Homo sapiens: one gene and its partner. The protein of the gene in region 2 purifies or fractionates together with the protein of the main gene of each other region. This does not show direct contact. Each region holds a gene or a part of one and is shown on either strand. Other genes may lie near its edges.

The links.
Region 1: the proteins of REG3A (region 2) and CMSS1 purify together in Homo sapiens (affinity purification with mass spectrometry; one large-scale study listed by BioGRID and IntAct). This does not show direct contact.

Annotation. Positions count from the first base shown.
Region 1 is NC_000003.12:99,823,802-99,828,446, reverse strand, and holds part of CMSS1 (protein CMSS1), read right to left. Parts: exon of another isoform or gene 4,582-4,645; intron 1-4,581.
Region 2 is NC_000002.12:79,156,954-79,162,381, forward strand, and holds REG3A (regenerating islet-derived protein 3-alpha precursor), read right to left. Parts: upstream 2,801-5,428; 5' UTR 2,775-2,800; exon of another isoform or gene 2,487-2,774; 5' UTR 2,453-2,486; coding exon 2,377-2,452; intron 1,817-2,376; coding exon 1,698-1,816; intron 1,511-1,697; coding exon 1,373-1,510; intron 746-1,372; coding exon 619-745; intron 341-618; coding exon 273-340; 3' UTR 53-272; downstream 1-52. UniProt on the Homo sapiens protein: Acts as a hormone in response to different stimuli like anti-inflammatory signals, such as IL17A, or gut microbiome. Secreted by different cell types to activate its receptor EXTL3 and induce cell specific signaling pathways.

The DNA of each region.
Region 1 (4,645 bases), on a different chromosome or scaffold from region 2:
GCAGTGATGAAGCTCTAACATCAAAAAAAAAAAAATACACGTATGTACAGAGTGCTTAGTATTGTGCCTCACATAGAGCAGGTATTTGATAAATCTAGAGTGAATAGAGAATGAGTAAATGAAGAAGAGAAGGCCATTCAGTCAAGACATTTTCTCACTTGAGAAAACATGCTAAGAGATAGCAATGGTATGACAGGGTTAGGAAAAGTAGTTATGCCCAGGTGACATTCAACATTGGTAATTATGCTAATAGAAAAAAAACCCATTGGAATCCCTTAGTGAAAACCAAACAGGTTGAAAAGAAGCATAAAACAGGAAAAACAACATGCACTAACAATAGTCCCAGAAAAACAAAATACCTTGGGAAAAATTTTACTCTGAAATGAAGCACAAAATACGTTGTATGTTGAAGCTTTCAAAATTGTTTTCTCCCATGTCAGGAGACTTCCTAAAGTACATTTTTATCCAAGCTAGCATAAGTTTAAGAGGAAGCACAAAAAGAGGGACAAGATAGTATACAAAGTACTAAAAAATTTAGGTAGAAGCCAGGCACGGTGGCTCACGCCTGTAATCCCAGCACTTTGGGAGTCCGAGGCGGTGGATCACCTGAGGTTGGGAGTTCGAGACCAGCTTCACCAACGTGGAGAAACCTCGTCTCTACTAAAAATGCAAAATTAGCCGGGCATGGTGGCGCATGCCTGTAATCCCAGCTACTCCGGAGGCTGAGGCAGAAGAATCTGCTTGAACCTGGGAGGCGGAGGTTGCAGTGAGCCGAGATTGCGCCATTGCACTCCAGCCTGGGCAGTAAGAGCAAAACTCCGTCTCAAATTAAAAAAAGAAAAAATTTGCGTAGAAAAATGTTGACACTTCTATGGGAACCAGCAGAAACTCATCTTTAAATGGTAATGCAGTTCTAATCCCATTAAGACAAAAGTCTTCAAAGTAAAGTTACATTTGCCGGGTGCGGTGACTCACACCTGTAATCCCAGCACTTTGGGAGGCCAAGGCGGGCAGATCACATGAGGCCAGGAGTTTGAGGCCAGTCTGGTCAACATGGCGAAATTCCATCTCTATTAAAAACACAAAAATTAGCTGGGCTTGGTGGTGCATGGCTGTAATCCCAGCTACTCAGGAGGCTGAGGCACGAGAATCGCTTGAGTCTGGGAGGCAGAGGGTGCAGTAGGCCAAGATCATGCCACTGCACTATAGCCTTGGTGACAGAGTGAGACTCTGTCTCAAAATAATAACAATAAATAAAGTTATATTTTAACAAAAGGATTGACAACCAAAAACCATGCTTGTTTCAAGCAATATGTATTAATAATATAATAAAAATGCAAATACAACTATAAAGTGAGAATACTATTTGGAGTTCAAAACAGTAATGTCTGACCTATATGTAACACAACTGAAATATAAAGCATCTTTCCTCCTGGGCATGTTGTTTCCGCAGAAGTGTGGCCTCTGAAGAAAAATGAAAATAAAAGAAGCTGACCTAATAATTCTAGAGTGATTTCACCTGATGAACTGTTTCAAAGTAAGCAGATAAAAATCCAAGTGAGTGAAAACAAATCCAATTTGTAACAAAAATGTTAAAAACCTGATACTTTTAAGCTGAAGTCTTTTCCTGGTCCTTCATTTATTTACCTTCAAGGTTTCTGAACTAATCTTGAGATATTTTAGAATCAAATATCTGATTTTAACAGATATGTGACTGGTCTAATACATAGCTGATAACTACTAAGTAACGGAGTAACTAAGGTAAAACACAATTCTCTCTGGATTTGTTTCAAATTTCTTCTCCTGAAGACACGTGACATACAATTCACGATGTGACTTTGAGTTTGGGGCAGCGTTTGCAAACTGCGGTTCACAGGCCAAATTCAACCCACTGTGAAAGTTGAAAAACAATCAAAATAAGACTATTTTGTGACGTGAAAATTACATAAAATTCAAATATTGTTGTCCATAAATAAAATTTTATTGGAACACAGCCATACTCATTCGTTTACACATTTATTTTCTATGACTGCTTTTACACTGCAACAGCAGTTATGACGGTGATGACTGGACCCACACAACCTAAAATATTTATTATCTGGATTTATATGAAAAAAGTTTGCTGACCTCTGGTCTAGTGTGAACTAGAACAAGGAACTCAGAAATAGGAATTTAAGAGCTTGATCAACTACTTTTTATAAGCAATATTAGCCATTTAAAAATCAATTAAGAATTCTATGAAAGCTGATAAAAATGGGGAAACTATATTTCAAGCTGTGATATATTTAGTAAAATGTATAATTCTATGAATGCATCTGAAGTGTTCCACTAAATAACATCAGATTAACAACAGATAAAAGACTTGTGCTGGGCCGGGCTCCGTGGCTCACACCTGTAAATCCTAGCACTTTGGGAGGCGGAGGCAGGCGGATCATGAGGACAGGAGATCAAGACCATCCTGCCTAACGTGGTGAAACCCCCCTCTACTAAAAATACAAAAAATTAGCCAGGCATGGTGGCATGCACCTGTAGTCCCAGCTACTTAGGAGGCTGAGGCAGGAGAATCGCTTCAACTCAGGAGGCGGAGGTTGCAGTGTGCCAAGATTGCGCCACTGCACTCCAGCCTGGGGGACAAGAGCAAAACTCTGTCTCAAAAAAAAAAAAAAAAAAAGAAAAAGAAAAAAAGAAAAAAAGATTTGTGCCACAAAATGATATATTATTATTGAATCTGAGGGAGGAAATGGAAGTTATGTATAGGCCTTCCACATTTATGAGTTGTATTTTTCAAGAGATTCATGGACATTTAGCAAAATTATAGCAGGAACTACCTGACATGCAATTTAGGGAAATATGCATAAATTTCCACCTTTAAATGTTCGTAATTGTTGTCAAGAACCACTCATTTAATCATCTGAAAGAACTGTGGAAATTATATGCAGTAAATTAAACCAGACCATGAAGGTTATCTAAGTGTCCATCTGTTACAGCCTTCAAGTGTAGAGCAATGACTAATAACATAGTCATTTTTCTCCCTCCTCTTTCTTCTTTCCTTCCCCTTGCTTTTTAAATTCATCCTGCCCCTGTGTTTTGCCCCTGAATATCTGTCAATACTATTTGCATTTTGACTGAACCACATCAATGTGTAAATCCTGTAATGTAAGCTGATTATGTTTTTTCCCTCTAATTCTGGTACAGTGTCTAAAACAAGGCTAAGCATGAGAGCTTGACGAATGATTATGAAAACAACATGCCCAGAAGTCGATCCTCTGTTGTGTGTTATTAACATCTCCTACAAATATTCCAAGTCTGAATTTTATATGTAGAGACAATGCCTTACAACATCTACAATGCAAGACTGTCTATATGTAAAACTAATACTGTAAAGGTTTAACTTTGGTGTGAAAATAGAAAAAACACAGAACAAAAAAACCTGGGTACTTGGGTTTAAAGAAAAGATCCAAGGTGCTCCCCTACTCCATTTCCAGAAGGAATTCACCATGGATAAAGCAATATAATTTGAAGAATATACCATAAAATGATATTACAACAAAAATATTTACAAAGCTCATTTCAGCAATCTCAAAAAGAATAAGCACATTGATTCTAGGTGACAAAAGCTGTCACCAGTAAAAATTACAGGCTTATTTACAAAGAGTCTCTTGTCCTCTTTCCAAACGTAATTTATAAAATTAAATCCAAATATGGTTACAATAAAATGTTAGACACAGTTTTACAAGGACTACTAATGTAATTTTGAAAAGAGAAAAGCGGCATTTGCCAAATCTGTCAAAAGCCTGGACAGGAGTTTGACAAATCTGCCAGCAGATCAAGGTTCTTTTGATAAAGATCTCCTAGGTTGAGGTCTTCAAGGTGTGACTACGAAATATTAATAATTAATTGGTTAACTAACAAATACTTAATGAGTGCCTTCGCTGTATCCAGATACTACTCTAGGCCCTGAAACTAAAGCAAACAAGACAAACAAAATACCTGCTCACATGGAGCTCTTACAGTCTACTGCTGGGAAAAAGTAATTAATTTAACAAGGAAAAATAATAGTTGGTGCTAAGTGCTCTGCTGAGAATTATAATAACATAATAATTTAATAGATATTGTGATAATGTAATAGAGCACCTAGATAGTTACTCTAGACTGCCTGATCAGGAAGCGCCACTCTGAGTAGGTGACGTTTGAACTGAGTACTTAATGTTAAGACAGAGCCAGCTGGCCGGGCCTGGTGGCTCATGCCTGTAATCCCAGTGTTTTGGGAGGCTGAGGCGGGCGGATCAAGAGCTCAGGAGTTCGAGATCAGCCTGGTCAACATGGTGAAATCCCGTCTCTGCTAAATATACAAAAGTTAGCTGGGTGTGGTGGCAGGCGCCTGTAATCCCAGCTACTCAGAAGGCTGAGACAGGAGAATCATTTGAACTCAGGAGGTGGAGGATGCAGTGAGCTGAGATCGCACCACTGCACTCTAGCCTGGGTGACAGGGCGAGACTCCAGCTCAAAAAAAAAAAAAAAGAAAGAAAGAAAGCCAGCCAATCAGAAGGACAGGACAGAAAGGAAAAGAACAGCTAACACAAACGGCTAAGTAAGACAGAATGAGTGTGGCCTACTGAGGAACAGAATGAAGGCTGGTGTGGGT
Region 2 (5,428 bases):
TTTGTCCTTCTCAGAGTATGGCTATGACACTGGCATATACAAGACAAACAAGTGCAGACTAAAAATTTTATTGCTCTTTAAAGCCTTAGGCCGTATGACAAAATGAAGAGACTGAAATGACAGCGGGGAGGAAGAAACAGAAGAAAGATAAGAATGAGGTGGTCAGGTTGGGGGAATTAAGCGAATATTCTCTTCCAGGGTGAGTCCTCACACTGGTCTCATGCCCATGATGAGTTGCACACCAAACACAGGCTGCTGACTTCCCTCCTGCACTAGTCAGTGAACTTGCAGACATAGGGTAACCTCACATTACAGTTATAATCTTTCCACCTCAGAAATGCTGGAGAGACAGAAGACATAAATGGAATGGGGCTGAGGAAGCTTGTGAATCCAATGAAGGGGCATCCCAGGTTTTAGCCTAGAAGTTAAAGCCTCTCCCTCACCTTCACCAGTGTCCCAATCCAGGAGAGAGATTCAAAGAAAGTGGAGAAGAGAGGAGATAAGAGAAGACACACTAACATTGTATTTTCTAGCTCAGGAAGATTTCCTGAAGGTCAGACCCAGGAATGGGGGATGAGATGGAAAACACTGGGAAGAGGCAGCTCCTCTGTTTCTTACCTGTGCTTCTCGACAGGCTCGCACAGTGGCCGGGGCTTGAGATGGTGGAGGGATTTCTCTCCCATGCAAAGTAATTCATCACATCACTGCTACTCCACTCCCAACCTTCTCCATTGGGCTCGGTGCCCTGTAGAGTAGAGGAGGTAGCCAGGTGAAGGGAATGGCCATTGCAGCTCTTCTTGCATGGCCCCTTAGCTGCAACACCTGATTTGCTCCCCAGCATGAGGAAAGTTGGTCTGCTATTCCAGATGCTGCCGGTGAGTAGGAAACTCTTCCTTGACTCCTCATTGCTATTGGAAAATTCCAGCCAATAAACATAAGACCTTTGGAACAACTCAAGGTAATATATTATTTGCAGAACAATAATTGATGTAGCATTTGTGATTAGCTTGTGAACCTCAAAAGTAATGTCAGTTCTGTATGGGGACAAAAATTGATCCTATCTTCATTAAGAGTTCCTTCAGAATAGTAGGCAAAGACTCCATGAAGCTCAGAGAATTGTTAACCCAGCCTCATATGAGAATTATGTAATACGCCTGAGGAAGGCAGATTGATTTTATCTGAAAGATAGAGACCTCCACAGAACTCAGATCTTCAGATGCTTCATGGCCTTCCCTTTCCCCCCAAATATTCCCCAGAATCTGAGCTCCAGTGCTCCCTGAAGTACTTCCTGGGCAGGCACAGGGGACAGGGAGTGGGCCTGGGCAACAATAGCACCTTGAGAGGTAACAGAGAGGGGAGGATATACTGGCACCTGTGTGGGGTCATGGAGCCCAATCCAGACGTATGAGTAGCTGTTACCAATGCTCTTCACCAGGGAGGACACGAAGGATCCCTCAGCCCCACTGAGCACAGACACCAGGTTTCCAGAGGGCCGCTTCTGGCAGGCCAGCTTTGAGGGCAACAAAGAGAATGAGAGGGAGCCTGAGACCTGCTGAGGGAGGGCAGGGCAAAGGTAGGTGGGAGGAGGACTGTGTGAAAGATAAACGTGTTCATCCTCATTCCCAAGGAACTCTCCTGAATGGAGACCCTCCTCCCCCTGAGACCGGTCACCTCCAACACCACATCTAACCACTCACATCTGCATCTGTCCAGGATTTTGGTGACAAAAACAAGGCATAGCAGTGGGAGCCATAGGCCTTGGAGCCTTTGGGACAGCGGATCCGTGCAGAGGGCAGTTCCCTCTGGGGTTCTTCACCTGAGGTGGAAGAAGAGGGGGGAGGGTAAAATGAAGAGTGGGGCTTGGGGTGGGAGATGACCTTGGGGAATACCTAGGAATGTCCTTGGGGAGGAAGACCACATTCCTGACACCCCTTCATCTTCCCTTATGTTTTCAGAAATTCTTTATCTCAAAATAGCCGTAGTAAATGGAGCACCATCCAGTCTCTTATTACCCTTTCCCCTTATTCAACCATTCAATACTCTCCTCACTCTGGGCTGTCTCTACATTGGGTCCTCCAATCATTGTCCCTCCCCACATCTCATTACTGACCCTCCAGTGTATATTAGAGTCCACTTTCCCACCAGTGTATATTAGAGTCCACTGACTAAATGGAAGCCATCTCATTCCACTGTTAGTGGACCACCATGGAGCCTCCCACTGCAAGTTAACCTGAAGGAAGGAGAGATGATGCAAGAACTGCAGGCAGGTTCATTAGACACCACGTCATTACCTCACATGACACACAGGAGCCTTCCTCCTCTTGTTAGCTCTGAGGATTCATAGGGAACCCAGTGCTAGAGGCAAAGCAATCTCACCTTGAACCTGAGACAGCAGCATGAGGCAGGAAAGCAGCATCCAAGATACACTGGGCAGGGCCATGGGAGGCAGCATAGTGTCTGCGACTTGAGGAGGCAATCAGGAGTCACTAAAGAAAGCGTGGTCAGTGGGAGAACACACAGATACCCCACTGCCTCATGTCATTTTCCTTCTCTAGTCCCCTAGGACTAAAGTGATCTTGGTCACATCCATCATCTTCTACAGTTCTGAATGAGTTGTGAATCTGTGTACTCTCCCATCCCCGAGCCCTCCCAGGACACCCTTGCTGAGTCTCAGAGTTCCTGTGCTCCCTGAGGAAGGGACCCTCCCATGTATTCTCCTGTGTCATGTGCAGTAGCTCCTCCCTGGGTCTCATCTTCTCTCAGCTCCCACTTACCTCTCTGGTGGGATATGGTATGGTTTGTCTGGTCAGGAAAGAGTGGGATTTTATAAGAGGATCTGGGGGAGGGACATTGGAGTGAAGAGTGACAATGAGTAGGCAGGACAGGGGTCATGGGGTGGGGTTGGCATGGACTCTTCCTGGCAAAGACTGGGGATTTTCCCAGATGTTGCCTCTTTCCTGTTGGCAGGCCAACACTTTCCCTAGGAAGAGGTGAAGTTTGCTTTTTCCTCTGCATCCTCCTTGTCAAAGGCCTGTGGCACCAAATGTGATATGAAATCTTCTAATGTGGACATCTGAAAGAGGAGTTCCTCTGGTGGGTTTCTTAAGAACCCACTTCTGGAGGCAAACCTATGTATTTCTTATTACCTTGCCTAGTAAGATTAAATAAATGTTAGGTGTTAAGTGAAGATTTACGGGAATTATAAGTATCATGGACAGTTGAGGACATAGATGGTACTGAAGCTAAGAGTAGGAGTGAGGGTTCAGGGCCATTATGCAAGCATGATAGCTAATTTTGATGAAACTTCAGAATTGTCTGACAAGTCAATACATGAGCCACAATCTTACAGAAAATCAGGTGAATGGACTTGTCTTTCCAGTCTTCAGCAAGAAAGAGCTTCCCCAGTGGAGAATGACAATGGCAATGTGATAGAATAAGAGGTAATGAAGGAAAACAAGACATAAGAAGGACTACAGTCAAATAATGAGGATCAAAGAAGAATGAATAATAGTTAAAGAAGGGAAGAGCAGCCATTGTGTAAAATCATAGGTCAGTTGGCCAGGTGCTGTGGCTCAGGTCTATAATCCCAGCACTTTGAGAGGCTGAGGTGGGAGGATCACCTGAAGCAAGGAGTTCAAGAGCAGCCTGGGCAACACATTAAGACCCTATCTCTACAATTTATATTTTAATTTAAGCCAGTTGCGGTGGTGTGTGCTTGTGGTCCTAGCTACTCAGCAGGCTGAGGTAGGAGGACCTTCAGTTGAACCCAGGAGTTCAAGGCTGCAGTAAGTTATGATCATCCCACTGCACTCCAGCTTAGGCAACAGAGTGAGAGCCTATCTCTAAATTTTTGTTTTGTGATGTTGTAAACATAATTCTGAATTGCATGTAAGTCTCTATTACATCAAAATGCTCACTACTTGTAGGTTGCTCATGAGCTTCCTTGCTGGACTGCCATTTGGCTGTACATTAAAAGCCCTTTTCATTGCATTCTTACTGGGCAAATGGTCAGCTTCATATGGGTATACTGGGAGAAGTTCTTTTAGTCATGTTTATTTTTGAGTTAGCAGTTTGGTGCCTCTGACAAGCATACTACATTGCCCATACACTGGTTCAGGTTCAGTTTGGCCAGTCCAGGAAAAAGTTAGGCTGGGAATTTCTACAGACCCTGACTCTCATGCTATTGTTGTAATATGCCAACTTGTATGCAGATGTTTATAGTAGGGGTCTGTGACGAGGTCATGAGATGTAGCTCATCCTTAATTCACGTCCTCAAAATTCAGTACCCAAAATTCAATGCAATTCCTCAAATAATATGAGAAGAAATATAGCCAGCAGATTATTTTGTTAAAAAGGATTTTTTTCCACAAAATTTATACAACAATATGTAAACACATGGAGGTACGGGGTAGAAGGTAACCAGAGGGTAGAATAGTTACCAGAGGCTGAGACGGGTGAGGGGAGATGAAAAGAGTTTAGTTCATCGTACAAACATACAGCTAGATAGGAGGAATATGTTCTAGCTTTTGATAGCACATAGGGTGACTATAGTTAACAACAATATGTTGTATATTTCAAGATACCTAGGAGAGAAGATTTGAAATGCTGACAGTTTATTATTAAAACTCACTTTTGTTCTTAATTGAAATAGTGTGACCTTTGTAATAAGCCTTAAGGTTATAAAATCCCTAAGTGCAATGTGAAATTTTCTTTGCAATGACACTCACTAAACTCACTAAAGTTGAGTTGTTTTTGTTTTATTTTTCATTGTTTCTTCATAACAATGCTTATTAACCAAGCACTGAGAAGTTTGTTTAAATATTATATTTCTTGAGCTGGTTTTGAGTTATATAAAAATCTACTTCTTAGGGATGACACAGGAATTCTTATTCTTGATGTAACCAAGGCTGAGTTTTAAGGAGCTTCCTTTGCCAAAAGATGTCCAATTTGTACTTTTATCCCTATTATCTTCTGAATCAGATATTTGCAGATAAGACTTAGTAGTCATTCTTAGAATTATAAAAGTGAAAACTGATCTCTTTGCAGGAGCCTAATATATTTGTTTCAAGGATGGTAAAATGTAGAGGTTTCCTGGAAGATGGCTCAGCAGGGTCCATGTCAAAAATAGCCTTGAACTGTATCTCACTGGAGATTTATCACTAAAGTGCACCCCTTTGAGATATATTAACCAGATGTCCAGAATGCCACTTTGGTCCTTTCATCTTATCCTAACACTGTCAGAAGAATTGGGAAAGGGATAAGATTAGGTGCTGAGCAACTATAAAACAGGAAAAAGGGACAAAACTTCAAAGCCCCTGAGGCCAATGAGGGAAGTTATTAACATCAAAGAACTGGAAAGCTGATAACATAGCTACTGAAATTTGGTCAATTATACGTAAGCCATGAACAGTAACTATCATATGACCTG